2 separate regions of the Homo sapiens genome follow, and region 2 is linked to region 1. The links come from fine-mapping of genetic effects on gene expression. Tissue or cell type: thyroid. Region 1 holds a variant in brackets; the other region holds the start of a gene. All regions are shown on one strand. Distances are from middle to middle.

What was found. PIP is the estimated chance that this variant, and not a neighbour inherited with it, causes the effect.
Region 2: TAFA5 starts here. The variant in region 1 is fine-mapped to the expression of TAFA5 in thyroid (GTEx, PIP 0.98).

The regions. Positions count from the first base shown.
Region 1 is chr22:48,650,622-48,658,799 of GRCh38, forward strand. All of the region lies in intron 2 of TAFA5 (TAFA chemokine like family member 5), which reads left to right. Among named protein-coding and RNA genes, the nearest start is that of MIR4535, 130 kb to the right of the region's middle. The variant A/G (reference allele first, on the strand shown) is at 4,562.
Region 2 is chr22:48,485,804-48,493,981 of GRCh38, forward strand. TAFA5 (TAFA chemokine like family member 5) reads left to right here and starts at 3,750. Exons shown (of 4, transcript NM_001082967.3): 1 at 3,750-3,901. The coding sequence starts at 3,790. RefSeq lists an enhancer at 5,828-6,333.

The DNA of each region.
Region 1 (8,178 bases):
TTGTCTCTGAGCTAAAGCATTTCTGGGTGAACCATGTCCCTGCCTGTACAGGGCAGGGCTGTGAGCCTGTGCACCTGCATGCGAGATCCAACTTACGGAACCATCAGTGAAAGATTCAAACACAAACCAGCCACGCACTGTGGCGCTTTCCATCCTTACACACAGTATCAGCCACCGAGCCTCCCCTCCCCCAGGGCTGCCCTCTGAGGCAGGCACCCAGGTGCGTGATGCCCTGGCGGGCTGGCCAGGCCCTGCTTCTGCTCCTTTCTAGCTGTTTATGCAGACGCGCCAGGTTCCCTTTTCCATCAGCACACACGTGCTGGGTCCCGCAGCCACCACAGCACGGCACTGAGGACTGAGACCCTGTGTCCGAGTCCAGCGCTCACCCAGCCCTTGCCAGGCATGCAGTACCTGGCTGTACCTGGCCAGCCCGCCTCGCTGAAGCAAGGTCTTCCTTTATGAAGAGAGGTGCTGTCTCCCACAAGTTGAGTTCTCCTGAAACTCCTTTCCCAGGAAATCAAAGACTGCAGCCCAGTAGCGGGGGCAGCAGAGGGTGGTGGTTTGTGAGCGGAACTGCCCCAGAGCTGAGCCAGAGGGGTGAAGGGTGGTAGCCTCAAGTCTCGGTCGTGGGCGGGGGCAGTTTTCCCTGGGAGCTTTTGGAGGATGGTAAACTGCAGTCATGGCACAGCGCAGACCCATTGTCAGGGCCGCAGTGGCCACTGGGAGGTGCAGGACAGGCCGGGCTGACTGCCAGGTCTGGGGAGGCTGTGCCCAGGAAGGGGCAGGGCCAGAGGGCCTGGAGGTGGGTGTTGGGTGGAGCCTTATATTCTCCAGGCATGAGGCCTTGCGAGCCACCTGGGTCCTGGGCTGGGAAAAGAGGCAGAAAACAGGCAGGTGGGCACTGCCGGGTTCTGGGCAGAGGTATGGTGGCCAGAGTCTTTGCTTCTCTGTGGTTGGGAGTTTGAGGCAGGCGTGGGACAGCAGAGGCCTTGCCCGCTCTCAGGCAGTGTGGATGGTTGGCAGTAGACGCGCAGCCTTAGGCGGGTGGACGCTGAGGCCGTGGGTTTGGCATCTGTGCTTCACGTGTGGTTTAGAGTCCAGGTGTGAAGAAGAAGGGGCACCACGAGGGGGATCTGTGGTCAGCGTCACCTTCCACCCCACGTCCACAGCCCTGTCCTCATCCTCCAGCAGCAGGTCGGTGCGGGAGGGTGGAGGGTGCCCTGGCCACGTACAGGAGTCTGGAGATGGTCCTGTCCTTGCTGTGGGGATGGGGACCACACTGATGGCAGGGCCATTGGACCCTGGGCTGTGGGTCCTGGCAGTGACTGCAGGAGCCAGGGTAGGAGGGAAGTCACTTCTTCTCTTGCCTTTCCCCGTTGTTGACCGTCATCATGCCTAGCTGCTCATGATGCCCTAGCAATGTGGGGTTTAATTACAGGAGTGCAGGAGCAAAAGCCTTTCGGTTCTGAGAGGCTGGGCACAGCGCGTCATCTCCACCTCGAGGCGCCAACGGGGCCCCCAGGGCCAGCTGAAGGCATGTTGTGGCTGGGACTAGGGTGACGGGAATTTTCCACCAGGAGCGACGTGAATCACCTGCTCTATTGTACGCAAGAGACTGGGAGTGCGCCAAGGTCCCTAAGATGCGGTGTCTGTGGCCGAGTCAGCCTGCATCTACCAGTTGGTGCTCAGCCTGGCCAGGGGTTGGCCCCAGGGTGGCAGCTGGAGAGGCTGTGGCTGGCCCTGCCTGCCCCGTTCATCCCTTCGGCAAGTGGTGGTTGGGATAAGGAAGGCCCTGCTTCCCTACAGTTGTTCATACAACATGGGGACATCTGTTTGACCACAGAGCTCACAGGAGACCGCCTGCTGGCAGTTGGCTGTTCATGGGCAGCCCTTCCTGCGTTGAGCCCTGACCACCCTTGGCAGCCTGGCACCCCGCACTGGCCACCCAGCGCCATCCAGGAGGGGGTCTGGGCCCTCACCAAATCATCGAGGCCCTGATCTGAGGAAGGATAATGAAGCTGTTTTTCAGAGGGGCCCAGACCCCCACGTGGAGCACCGGCTTTGCTCTGGGCTGTTTACTGGGCACCCGCTCCCCTAACAACCTTCCTGAGAAAAGGACTCATGTTCCAGGTACCTTCCAGTACGCGACGGAGACCAGCTGGGTACCTGCCTGCCTCAGGAGGCACCCTCTCCACTGCTTAGGGGCATGGACATGTCGGCTTCCTTCTGGGGGCTCAGGGAGATCCCAGCATTTCTGGAGGCTTCCCGAGGCCATGGGCGACTGGGTGTACAGCCACATCCTCAGCCAGGTTGTGGGTCCTGGCCACCCTGGACCCCTCATGGCTTGGGGTCCGTGCTTTGTGGCACAGAAGCTGTGGGTGCTGGTGTGGCCCTCTGCTTGGCAGGCATTGCCAGCCACTGCATCACGCGACCGTGGTGGGGCTGTCAGGACACATACATCTCCGCGCAGACTGCTGCCACCCGCGGCCTTTTTGTTATGGAACCACTGCTGGGAGAGGGTGGCGTGTTATAAACGCTTGGCAAGCGGAGAGGCGCCTGGGGGCTGTTGGCGACACTTTCTTCCCCAGCACACCCCTCCGTTCCATTCTGCCTGGATCCAGATGGGGTTGGAGATGCCCTGGGATGCGGGCACCATGTCCCTCAGTTCTGAGCATGATTGGTTTGTGAGGAAGATGGTGGGAAGAGACCCTGCCCCCGGTTCCCTAGGACGTGGATGTGAATTGCTTCAGTCCAGAGGATGCAGCCACTTCAGGCCCAGCAGGTGGGCAGGGCAGGGCAGGTGTGTCTGCTGTTGGAGCCACAACTCACAGTGCCCTGGCCAGGGCCACTGTGGTGAAGTTGTTTCAGGGAGGAGCTGACTGCCCGGCCCGACCCATGGCTGTGGCGTGAGGGTACAATGGCAACTGTGCTAAAGGCCAAGCACTTTGCTTCATCAGAGCCCAGTTTTACCAGAAGGGAGCAAGCCAGTCCTTCTCCAGCAAGTTACCCAGCAGTTCCTTCCAGATCTCGGTGCGTTTAATTGTTGGAAAACCACACAGTAGCTGCATGGCTCTCTGACGCCTCTGTAGAGAGATGAGACGGTTGGAGCCAGGGTGTTCTGCTGCTGAGAACATGAAGTTCCTTGAATGTCCCCCTCTGTGAAGCGCCCCCACTCCCAGCTCCAGGGAGCACAGCTCAGGGTGAAGGAGAGGAGACCCCAGCATTCACGGGCACTACGTGAGCGTCACCAGATGGCAGCTGGGGTTGGTAGATAAGTTGCTGATTTTTGAGGTGCTGTGGGGAGTCTCAGGTTGGGAGCACACTGGGAGGTGGCTGAGCAAACATGGGTGCCCGAGCCTCTCCGTGTCCCGTCACGTAGGCACGGCGGCTCTGGAGGGAAGGGGGTGGTCTCCTTGCTCTAGCCTCTCCATGTCCCGTCACGTCGGCACGGTGGCTCTGCAGGGAGGGTCCTGTCCCGTCACGTTGGCGCCGCGGCTCTGGAGGGAAGAGGGCGGTCACCTGGCTCTGCTCCCTCCCTTTCATAAGGGAGGCTCTTTCCCAGGGCTGTGGACACAGGGCCCCTGTGCTGCCAACCAGGAGAGCCAAGAGGAGGAGGAGGAGGAGGCCAGACACCTGGGCTGGGCCTGACCCTGGGCAGACCACCACCCTCCCCTGGGGCTGGGGCGCTGGTGTCCTGGCCCCCTCGAACTCTTGAAGCCTGCCCGTGGAAGGCCCACTGCACGTGGGATGCATCGTCCACGGGCCTACAGGGTTTGGAAGGAGCACGCCTGCTCCACTCGTGCTCCTGCCTTGAACCCACCGTCACTCCTTCCCATGAGGATGGGGACAGCTTATGCCTGCTCCACAAGGCCCCCACTCCGTGTGATTCGGGGACAGAGAGCTGCAGGGTCCTGGGCAATGGGACCCCAGGCTGTGCTGCCCAGGCACGTCCCATCCCTCGTCCTGTTGGGCCCCTCTGCCAAGTGCAGGCCTCCCGGCACTGACTTTCCCATCCGAATCACTCCCAACAAACTTGGGTGGGGTTTTAATTTTTTTTCGAATTCTGTCATTTTTGAGCCGAATGACTCAAATGACTAATAACTGTCTGGCGTGGAGGAAAAGGAAGGGGAGGGCTGGGAGGAGCTCCTGTGTGAATTTGACCTTGATCCAGCACCCACTCTGCAGCCTCCCAGGCAGAAGGCCCCTGATGGAAGCTGGGACAGATGTGGGGAGAGCAGGGGCAAGCAGGGAGCAACCTCCTTATCCCCACAGTCATTTCAGGAGCACTGAGGGCTGGGAGGAGGGGCCGTGGTGGGGCAGCCTAGGCCTATGGGGTCTGCGGGCCCAGAGCTGAGTCAGGCAGCGTGTGGTGGATCTGGTAGTAGCTGGATGCATCAGTGTGGCAATCCAGGAAGGCTTCCTGGAGGAAATGGGCACTGTGTTTAAAGGGGAGGCCACACCCATCTGTCATTGTGTACTGGGCATGGTTGTCATCCAGGATGCCCCAGGGTCCTTCAGCAGCAGGCATGAGTGGGGGTCCACTCCACATCCAGCCCTGCCC[A/G]GACCCCCTGGCTGCTCCTGGAGCAAACCGTGTCTGAAGGGGCTGGCAGGATGCAGAGTGGACAGCAGCCCTCACTCTTCTGCGGGAAAAGCTTTTGTGTGCTTCAGTCATTAGAAAAGTGAATGTAAGTCCTTAAGTACTTGGATATTTCTGTCTTGGTCCACTTTGTGATGTTGAGACTGGGTAATTTGTAAAGAAAAGAAATTTATTTTACACTGTTCTGGGGGCTGGGAAGTCCAAAATCAAGGCACTAGCGTGTTCAGTTGTGTGGTGAGGGCTGCATTCTCCAGAGAGGCAGAACGCTCCATCCTCACGTGGTGGAAGGTGGAAGGGCAGAAGGGGGCCAGGCTCCCGCAGTCAAGTCCTTTTACAGCATTATCTCTCCAGGATGGTGGAGCTTTCATGACCTGAACATCGGTCAAAGTGCCCATCTCCCAACACTGCTGCATTGGGGGTTAAGTTTCCAACACGTGAATTTAGGGAACACTTTTAGACCACGGCAATTTAGAAATACGTGAATGTTCTTAACGCAGCTGTGGCCTCAAGCAGGTCCCCTGAGCGCTCTGAGCTGTGGGCAGAGAAGCAGAGGAGGGACAGTGTGGTTGAAGGCACGGTCCTGCCTGGCTTCCTGAAGCCAAACACTGATTCTTTTTTTTTTTTTTTTTTTTTTTTTTTGAGACAGAGTCTCGCTCTGTTACCCAGGCTGGAGTGCAGTGGCGCGATCTCAGCTCACTGCAACCTCCGCCTCCCAGGTTCAAGCAATTCTCTGCCTCAGCCTCCCGAGTAGCAGGGATTACAGGCGCCTGCCACTACACCCGGCTAATTTTTTTTTTGTATTTTTAGTAGAGATGGGGTTTCATCATGTTGGCCAGGCTGGTGTTGAACTCCTGACCTCCTGATCCATCTGCCTCGGTCTCCCAAAGAGCTGCAATTACAGGTGTGAGCCACCACGCCCGGCCGACGCTGATTCTTTTTCAGGGTGTTGCTTGCTCTCTAGAGTCTGCTAGAACCACCCTTGTGGTATACTGGAACTGGCTTGCACCAGATTGCGAGAACCATGGGTTAAATTTTCAGGAAATGTGTGAATTGACTTGTAATACTCCCATTATTAAAAACGAAATTACCATCCTGGCCAACATGGTGAAGCCCCGTCTCTACTAAAAAATACAAAAAATGAGCTGGCTGTGGTGGCAGGTGCCTGTAGTCTTAGCTACTTGGGAGGCTGAGGCAGGAGAATTGCTTGAACCCGGGAGGCGGAGGTTGCAGTGAGCCGAGATCGCGTCACTGAACTCCAGCCTGGTGACAGAGCGAGACTCCATCTCAAAAAAAAAAGAAACAATGAAATTATATAAACTGACCTGTAGATAAATTATACTGAAACCAAAAATATCCACGTGAACACACTAAAAAAAGAAGAGTAAACAATATCTACATCAAGTGGAAGAAAGACAATAATAAAGATCAAAATGGGAATAAAGTAGAATATAGAAAAATAATGAAAATTACCAAAAGTTCTTTTTTTTTTTTTTTTTGAGATGGAGTCTCATTTTTTTTTCTTTTGAGATGGAGTCTCTTTTTTTTTTTTTTTTTTTTTTTTTTGAAGATGGAGTCTCACTCTGTTGCCCAGGCTAGAGTGCAGTGGTGTGATCTCAGCTCTCTGCAACCTCTGCCCTCCCGGGTTCAAGCAGTTCTCTTGCCTCAGCCTCCCAAATAGCTGGGATTACAGGCTTGCACTGCCATGCCCAGCTATTTTTTTTCTTCTATTTATAGTAGAGATGGGGTTTCACTGTGTTGGTGAGTCTGGTCTCAAACTCATGGCCTCAAGTGATCTGCCTGCCTTGGCCTCCCAAAGTTCTGGGATTACAGGTGTGAGCCACTGCCCACCCAGCAGGTTAGTTCTTTCAAAGATAAATGAAATTGACAAATCTCTAGCTAGGCTGATATGAGGGAGTAGAGAGGGATAGAGAAGAAGGAAAGTGAAGGAAGGCTGAAATTACCACATCATAAATAAAAGGGGACATTAGTACCCACCATATGAAATAAAAAGGTTAAAGGGATACTATGAACAATTGTATGCCAATACAGTAGATAGTTTAGATGAAATAAACGCATTCCTAGAAAGACACAAACTTCCAGAACTAACTCTAGAGGAAACAAACAGTTTGAATAGACCTATGTTAAGTAAAAACAAGGAATGAGTTATCAAAACTTCCCAACAAGAAAAGCCCAGGACCAGATGGCTTCACTGGTGAATTGGTCCAAACGCTTAAAGAAAAATTAACACTGGATCTTCTAAAGCTCTTCCAAAAAATAGAAGAATAGGGGCCACTTCTTAACTCACTCTATGAGGTTGGTATTGCCCTAATACCAAAGTATCAGACATCACAAGAAAACTACAGATCTATGGATACGGACATAGATGTCACTTTGGGTTTCGTGCATTCCCACAGTACGCCTCATCCCTGAGGCACGTGTCTCTCCTGCAGCACCACCGTGATGGGGACAGTGACATCCATGCCTGCATCTCCAGCACAGACCTGTGCCCTGAGTATGTAAAGGCGCTCTGTGAATGTCAGTGGGTCCTGATGCCTCCAAATGCCTGGTTGAAGCAGGTTTTCAGGGAGACCCGATGATGAACAAAGCCAGTGAACCAGCAGGCCTGAGCTGGGAGCAGAGAGGGAAGGATGGGGGACGCTGCCGCTCTTGAACCTGAGTGATGCCTTCCAGGTTCTTGATGGTGTTTAAAGTGTCCACTACACCCTGCTAATAATGCCGCTTGCCTCATCTTACATATGTTAATCAGCATCTGAGAATAATCAGCGTCTACAAGAAGAAATATCTTTGAAAAATCTTTGAGGAAATTCTCTCCAGGAAGCCGAGAGCTGAGGGGGCCCAGCATGTGGTGCTGGCGCGGGCCCTGATTGCGGCCATTAGCAGGGACATTCGTGACGTTTCAGGGAAGGGTGCATGGGGTCTGCCTGATGCCAGAGGACCTTGAGCTGCTCCCGTCCACTTCCACCTCCGAAACTCAGCCCCACAAACACTCCTGAGGGCAGGGTGGGTGGGGGAGCAGCGAGGTCTTACGACTGCTGCGTTCCTATTATGGCCCATCTGGGGATTCCGGGGCTCTTCTGAGGAGGACAGAGGCAGGTCCCTTGTCCCGAGCCTGCAGCGTTGCTTGTCCATGGCAGACGCCAGATGGATGTGCACAGCCCATGGGCGCTCAGTTCCGCAGCTCCCTGCCTCTCTGGGTGGAGTCTAAATATGGGTTATTTTTCAGCATCCTGAAAGCCACGCTGCATCTTGCGTGAGTGACGGAGCACCGTGACAGTTGATGCGGCCGGCAGGTTCAGGGCTGGCCTGTCCCAGCTCCTTCCTGAAGGTTATATGGATCACCCCATTCATTGTACAAACACCCACCCAGGGCAGTACTGCTGTCACCTCCTGTTAAAAGCAGGGAAGCTGAGCCCCACAAAGGGTGGAGCTGGCCCCAAGCCCACAGCTGGAGAGTGGGGGCACTGGGTCTTCAGTGCTGCAGAGAACGTCTCTCTTCTGTCCTGGAAATGCCCCTGCTGGCCCAGACCTAGGGCGTCGACGTGTAGAGAGAGAAAGGACCA
Region 2 (8,178 bases), 160 kb before region 1:
ACAACCCACCCCCGCCGACCACAGCAGAACACAGCGAGCAGTGGGCTCACATCCCCAGGAGGACAGCGAGGCTGCCACCTGACTGCAGTACGTGCCTGGGTCCGCACCCTGGTCAGCCGCCCCTCCTCTCTGGGTAACGCCCCTTTTTCTATTGCCCTCCTCCGACACCCTGGGTGCCCCGCCATGCAGGATGCCCCTTCTATGGGTCAGGCCTCTGAAGCAGTCCCAGGACTGGTGGCTTGGTGTGGGGTGAGAGCCGAGGACTCCCTCAAGGGTTACACCATTGCCATCCCCTGCGTTTTTGGGTAGGAGTTAAGGTGATGGTGTGATTCCTTAATAGACTTATTTAGGTTTCAAAATCTAAACTCCTGTCAGTTCTGGCTAGTAATCAAAACCAGCCCATCAACAACAACAACAAAATCGTCAATCCGTAGCGTGTGTTGCGATCCAGAGCAGAGCTTTCTGTTCCCTAGCAACCGAATTCAGGCTGCGCTCACCCCCCATCCTCAATTTCCATCTTGGTCTCTCTCTCCAGGCCTCTGGAAACAAGGCCGGGATGGGGCTGGACCAGGCACCTGCCCTTGCCTTCGGGCTGCCCGGGGGTGGTGTCTTTGTAATTACCTCAAGGTTGCTGTCCCAGGGAGACCCCATCTCTTCAATCTGATCTCGGACCCCACACCTCCCCCCTGCCTCCCCACTCCTCAGGTCCGTCTACTTGTAACCTGGGGTGGAGAATTCACCTTTTCTAGCGTCACCATTTTCAGACTCTCCACCATTCTAGACTCCAAGTCATAAGCACCAAGGGCTCCCCTTCCATTCCCTTTTTCTGGAAATATTCAGCATGTAATGAACCAGGCACTGCTCTCCCATAGCCCAAGGTTCCCCGCCATAGCCCTAATGTTGCGAGCACAAAAACCTCAGTGTCTGAGTTCCTGGATACAGCAGGCCGGGTACCGCACTGCACCCCTTCTCCTCTGCTTGGGAGCCCTCCCCAGCCACCCCATTGTCACCACAGCCCCTGTCCTTTGGCAAGAAGCCTCCAATATACCCTCCCAAAGTCAAGGTAGACTGCATCTCTCTTCAAACCATATTTTTTAAAGAAAGAAAATTACTATAAACCAAATTATTGGGAGGGCAACCAGCATTTCAAAAATGAATTAGGATACAATAGAAAACATCAGAGTATTTTTGGGGTAAATATTGCTTCGGAAAGTTTCACTCCAAGCATGTTTGTGCATGCGTGTGTGCATGTGTGTTAAAGCATGTGTGTGCATGTATGTGCGTGTGTGTGGATGTGTGTGCCTGTGTGTTCACGTGCGTGTGTGTGTTCATGTATGTGCATATATGTGTGCATGTGTGTGTGTGTTTGTCCTAAGGATGGACCAAAAGGGCCTGGAAACCAGTCTCCTGGAAGCCTTCCCTGGCACACACCTTGCTGTGTTCTAGAGTGTGATTTTAGGGTAAATGCTCCTCTCTTGTGCTCCAAGAGTGCTCTCCTCTCCCTCCCATCGTGACGCTTGCCACACTGCACTGGAATTGTTTGTTTCCTTGTCTGTTTCTCAAACTGACTGTCACTTTCCAGGGGGACAGAAAATCTATGTCTTGTTGGCTTCCCCAGTCCCAGTGCCTGGCCCAAGTAGTTGCTCAATAAACAGAGGTTGAATGAAGGAATGTCTGGCACAGGAGTTCGGGATGGACAGGATGAATTGGAATCTGTAACATTTTAAAAGCCACATCCTTTTTAGCAGGAAAAAAGGCTTCAATGAAAGGAATGAAATTGTAAGGGTGGAGACCTGGGCATCAATGGCTGACTCCACAGAATCCCATTGAGGGAGCCCCTCCCTGCCAGGGTCCCAGGCCCACCCTGCACATCCAGAGGCAAGAGGTACGTCCCTCATGGCCACCCCAAAGTTGTCAGGAGCCCCAACTTCTGCAGAATCACCTCCCTGCCAGGAAAGAGAGCGGGGAGAAGCTGCAGTTGAGAAGATACTAAACAGGAAAGTCAGCGTTTTAATTAAACAGGATTCAAAATTGATGGGAGAAAACAAGCATGGACACAATCATATTAACACAAGAATCCCGTCAGAGCCCCTGGCAAGGAAGCTTCAGTGCACAACAACCACTGGGACGGGGGTTAGAGGACTCGCAGTGAGAGGCTGCCTTTCTTTGCTCAGTTTCTCCTAAAGTGTTGTGTGTGTGTGGATGGGAGAGTGTGTGTGTGTGTGTGTGTGTGTGTGTGTGTGAGAGAGAGAGAGAGAGATTCAAGGAAAATATGTGTGTGTGTGGTGCTGTGTGTGCATTGGGGCATGAATGCTTGCATGCATGAGTTGTGGGTGAGTGTACGGCTGGGGACAGTCCACATCCCTTCACCTCCCTGGACCAGGCCTCAAGATGAAGGGATGATGCTTCTTCTCCCTGGTTGCTCAATCTGACTTGCAGGCCCTCTACTGGCTCCTCAGAAAAGGGTCTCCAGCGCCAAAAGAATCTCCTGGGGTGCTCAAGCCCCCAGCCCTATGCAGGATGGAGAATATCTTGTGAGTTCCAGAGGAGGGGTTCTATTAGTCGTGTGCACGAACCTGCAGGAAGGCAGAGCTTGGGGTGGTGCTGTGGCAGCTACCGGCAGGGGCCAGAGCCTCTCCAGGCAGCAGGGCCATCTGGACATCCTGGACTGGGGAGCGTATCTCCTGGGCTGTAGAGGGAGGTGCAGAGGGGACATGACTAGGAGGGTTGGAGATGGGGAAAGTGTCCTTGTGTCCTTACAAGGCTCATTTTCCCCCCATCCTTTGCTTGTTATAGGAGTGAACCTGTCTTGCAGATGATCGTTGACTATGCAGGTAAAATAGATTGCGATCATTGTCATCCTGCTCAGAAAACCCACCTGGATAGGACCAGTCCTGGGACTGGGAGCCCGGAGACGCCACTGAGAGCCGGTCCTGCAGGGACTCCAGGGAGATGAACCAGGAGATGGCTCAGCAAGGACCAGGCAGTGGCAGAGGTGCCCGAGTAGAGTGATCGTGGGGCAGAGGACTGAGGGAAAGTGCGTGCCTGTGCCTGGCAGTGCCGCCCCAGGTGGAGGAGGAGCCCTCAGGGTGGTGGGCTTCCGATGAAGGGTGACTCTGCTGGGGTCTGAGGCTGTGCTCCCAGTGGACTCAGGGACCCCACTGCACAAGCCCGATTTTGGGTAACAGGGCACACCTAGGGAACAGGCCCAGAGCACCCTCTCCTTGGAATAAACTCCGGATCCAAGTCCCAGAACCCACCTTAGGAGGCGTCTGCCGCCCCCGCCCCCTCCCCAGCCTTCCAGGCCCTGGCTGCGGTGGATGGGGGCGCGGAAGGCCCAAGTGCGCGAACTTCACCTGGCCCGGCCGTCCTCCCCGTGGGGGGCCCAGGCTGCGGGCGCGTCAGGCCGTCTCTGTCGCCATCCGGAGGAGCGGCTTGGGCGCCGCGTCCCCTCTGCCAGGCCCGGGTCGGCGGGCGGCTGGAGCCCCCAGCGGTGGCGGGCGCGCGCCTCTCTCGCGGATGCCGGGGCGCGCGTAGCCGGGGCGCGCAGTGACGCCCAGAGCGGGGCCGGCGTCCCCCTGGCGGGCCGGCGCGGGGTCGGCGGGCGCGGGCGCGAGCGCGGGCGGCGCGGGCGCGGCGCGGGGCGCGGTGGGCCGGGGCCCGGGCGCGGCGGCGGCGGCGGCGGAGGATGGCGCGCGCGGGGCCCGCACGTGGAGGCCGGCGCGGGGGCGCGGGCAGGGCCGGCTGCTGAGACGCGCTGCTGCCCCCCGCGCGGGCGCCGCGGCTTCAATGGCGCCATCGCCCAGGACCGGCAGCCGGCAAGATGCGACCGCCCTGCCCAGCATGTCCTCAACTTTCTGGGCGTTCATGATCCTGGCCAGCCTGCTCATCGCCTACTGCAGTGAGTACCGCGCGGCCCCGGCCCCGGCACGGCCCTCTGGGCCCCGGACCCCCTCCTCCGGCCCCGGCAGGCGCCCCGCGGGCCTCCCGGAGTCGGCGCGGAGTTACGAGCGCCGGGCGCATGGTCCCCCGAGTCCCGGCCGGTCCAACGCTGCGCTGGGCGGGCGAGAGGGTCCACCCGGGTTCCGGGCGCTCGAGCACTTCGGGGTCGGACGCCCCGGCCCGAGCCTCCCTTCCCTGACTCCCCGGCAGGGCCCGGGCTCCAGGCCCCGGGTGGCGCGGCCCGTCCCTGCCCGGCGGTCGGAGCCCAGCCAGCGGCTTCCCGGCCGAGATGCGCGCTCAGGAGGCAGCCGCAGGTCGCGGAGGGCGGGCGGCGCTGCCGGGGTGTCTGCGGAGCGCCCTCCCCGTGCCTCAGCCCGGGACAAGGGGGGAGGCGGCGGCCGAGCCCGGAGAGGAGCTCTTCAGGCAGGAGCCCAGCCTGGGCTCGGAGGAGCAGCTGGAGCTTCCGCTTTCCCGGGAAACGGGCTCGTCAGGCGCCTTCTGGAAAGAGAAGCGAAGTGAGGGATGGGATGCCCGGAGGGGGCTCGCCGCGGCCGCGGACGTTTCTCGGGTCGTGTCTGGGGCCCGAGCTGGTGACCGGCGGGACTGGCGCGGGCGCGGGCTGGGGTGGTGCGGGCCAGTGGGCGCCCGGGCGTGAGCTGAGGGCTGGGGTAGGGGGTGACCGCCGCGGGCTCCCTGTTGCCTGGAGTGAAGGGTGGGGGGTGGCCTGTGCCCCTGCCGAGGCTCCAGGCGGGTGGAATGAGGGGTGGTTGGAGTCCCGGGTGCAGACTCCAGCCTCGGCGCTGGGGAGGGTGCTCAGCATCCCGGGGCACGTTCGCGGCTGGTGGGGTAAGTGGGGGCCGCTCAGCGTCCCGGGCACAGGCTCTGGCCCCAGATGGCGCGGGCTGGTCGGCTTCAGCTCCGGGAGCTCCGGGCTTCTTGTCTTCAGCGGGAGAATAGGACGGGTGCTGGGGAGCACCTGTCATGGAGAATTGCCATGGGCGCGGGAGGTGATGGAAAAATATGGATTCTTTACAAAAAAAAAAAAAAAAGGCCAGCACCGAACCTCCCTCCACAGACACCACCTCCTCCAGAGCCCCGGGCCTCCAAGCTCCCAGTCCGATCTGATCCTTCCGCTGTCGCCAAAATGAGAGCACAGTGGCCCAGGGAGACCCGGGCAGCCGCGGGATCGGCCTCCGGAGTCCTGGGACAGCCCAGCTCGCCAGGATCGCAAGGGAAACCCGGGGACCAGAGCAGGAATTTTCCTACTTGCTTCAGCGCGGTTATGCATTTCCCTAGAAATGCTGTGGCACCGAGCGGGGAGGGGTCGCCAAGCCTGGGGGTCTCAACCCGAGCTGCCCAGGCAGACGAGGCCACCGTGGGTGCGCCGGCGCCCCTGGGAACTCACTGGCTGGCCGCCTGCAGGGAGCAGGGTCTGGGGGTTTGAGCGACATTTGTGCCTGCCCCCGAGTTTTCCGCGGCCGTCACGGGGCCTGCAGGGGTATGTGGGGGGATTCCCTAGAAGATCCCCAAGCAAGGCTTCCTAGGAGATGTAGAAAGGGTTAATGGCAGGTAAACTCTGTGCGGAAGAGGAGGCATTTGAATGCACTTCCTGGTGGCATCACCCCAGAGGAGAGGAGAGAGAGGAGAGGAGAGGGAGAGGGGGCTCATTCAGCAGTGTTTGGGGAGGGGCTGTAGTGCCCTGAGCCCACTACAGGCGGCCCATCCCTGGCTGGCTGCTAGAACCCAGGACAACACCTCACCCCCAACCCCCAGCAGCTCAGCAGGTGTGGAAAAGAACAACTGCTAATTGTTGCGAAGTACTTGACACCAGGGCCCTGTGGCTTCAACACCGCACTTCCCGAGCCCGCGAGGAGCGCGGTACACACTGTCTCAAGACACGCAGCGTCAGCCCTCTCCCACCCTGCGCTGCATCCTGAATCCTAAGGTGTCAGCACGTTGTTCATCCGGACGGGCTCACACCTTCCTGAGACTGTCGCCTGCTCTGCCGAGTGGAGTCCTGGTGTCCCAGCACAGACATCTGAGCCTGCTGCTTAGACACGCTGAGGATGGGAGATCTGGTTTCCACACTCATCCCTCCTCCTTAGGAGGCCTCCCCAGCGTTCTGGAAACAGCCTTTCGCCAGGACAAGGACAATTGGTAAGAAGGTCTTACCAGAGTAGCAGAAATAATTAATAACAGAAGCTTGGGTGAAGCACATTTTTTATGGCTGTTTCCATCTCCATGTAATGGAATAATTGACAATAAGAGACACACCCCATTACACCAGAAATGTACTTGGAGAAATTAAAACATTTCACTAAAATACAAAATAGACATAATAATAATTTATAGCTTGGAACTGCAGTCCTAGAGAAAAAAAATCCCCCCCCCTTTTTTCAGAACCGATAAAGCAAATTAAATGCAAATTAAACAGTTCCTAGGATTTTCATTCTTTCTTCCAATAGATCTGGGATGAAGAAGAATAGTTCGTATTCTCGTTTGTAAATTGTTTTTGTCATCAGTAAGGATTTTTATTACTCAAAATGTCTTTGTGTTATGAAGCAGATATATTTGTATCATATTAATTAGGGAAACTGATAAGTATCATACAGCGTTCAATTATCCTGCCTATTAAATCTGTGTGTTTCTCTGCAACACATAAGGTGCTGGCTTCCTAGTGCAGCTAGGAGGAAACTGGATTCTTTCTTGGCCTGGTTTTCTGTTGGGGGGATTCTACTGTTCTTGGCCCAGTGAGAGTCCGGCCTTCTTTCTTTCTCGTGTGCTGGGATCCATATAGAAGGAGATGGGCTCCACCGTCTGGCCGGAGAAAGACCTGCAGTCCACCAATTAGGCTAGTTGCTATAGTGACACAGCCTTGTCATTTTCTCCTCCTGGGGAAGAAGTGCCAGGAGACGCAAACAGGGGAAAGGGGCCCTGGATGGCTCACTTTAAAATGCATGCTCGGTGGTCTGCGACCATCACGGTGACAGCAGGCTTGGTTTCCTCCGCGGCCGGTGCTGCCCATGAGGGTTGTTGGATGGTTGGTAATAAGTTGACTTGCATGATGATGAGCTTTGATGGGGAAGTTGAAGCTCTTCTCCATTCTGGTCTGAGGAAACCTCTCTGGGTGTGGCTTAAAAAGAGTTGATATAGGTTGTTTTCCCCTTAGCGTATTTGGAGTAGAGAAGTCTGTCTGCCTAGATGTGGTTCTTGCCTAGATGTGGAATGGGACCTCTTGACCCAGCTAGAGCTGGTTGAGGGTGTTCTGTGCCCGCCGCTGAAGATGTGATCTTTCCACCCTGGCATCTAGGATAGAACAGCAGCAAGGGAGAGAAGCAAATGAGGACCTGGGGCAACTCCCTATGACACCTAAGCACTGACTCGGTCCTTGTGTGCAGCGTTGAAATCAAAGGTGAAGGACACTCTGCACTAGCCTAGATTCCATGTGCCCTATTCAGCACGAGCAGGTGGATGGTGGGGACCCAGACTATATTTCAGCGTACCAGGGAGAGTGAGGAAGACAGACAGGTTCACTATGTGCTGGACATGGAAATTTCCAAATAAATCCCGTCAATATTGAGCTGTACCTTCCAGTTAAATCTCATGTCCTCATCTATAACTATGAGAAGAAATTACAAACAACTTTGGAATTGTTTTGAATCCATTAGAATCCTAACTGAGCGTAGGCACTGTAGTGTTGCATTTCCTTTATAAATACAATTTATTGCATATTTAGGAGCGATTAGAATATGTTACTTTCCTGCTGTTCAAATTTTGTTCTGGAGTTCTCGAAGAGGTAAAATGGAAAACAGTGGAGGCTTAATGAAGTGGTGCCGTTCAGAAGTTTATTTCTCATCTTTTTTTGAAAAAATTCTCACTGTGTTTTTATTTGATGAATTTGGGGCACAAGAAGATGGGATGTTTGTTTTTTTTCAGCTCCATAAATATAAATTATCTGTCTCTGGGATTTCTTTTAGCCGACATCCATGCCCTAGGCTCAGTGAGGAAGAGGCAGGTTTGTCCCCTCACAGGATTTTCCCACGCAGGGACCCCTGGGGGAAGGGACTTCCGAAGGGACCCCTGGGGGAAGGGACTTCCCAGCGGCTCTAGACAGTGCCCTGGAGAGCCGCATTTACTCCTGGTGATCCTGGCGGTGCCCCACTGTCCCCTCCCACCTTCCACCCCTGCTCTTTCACTGAGATAGGGCCAGAAGGGGGGTCTCCACTCTTCCACTGT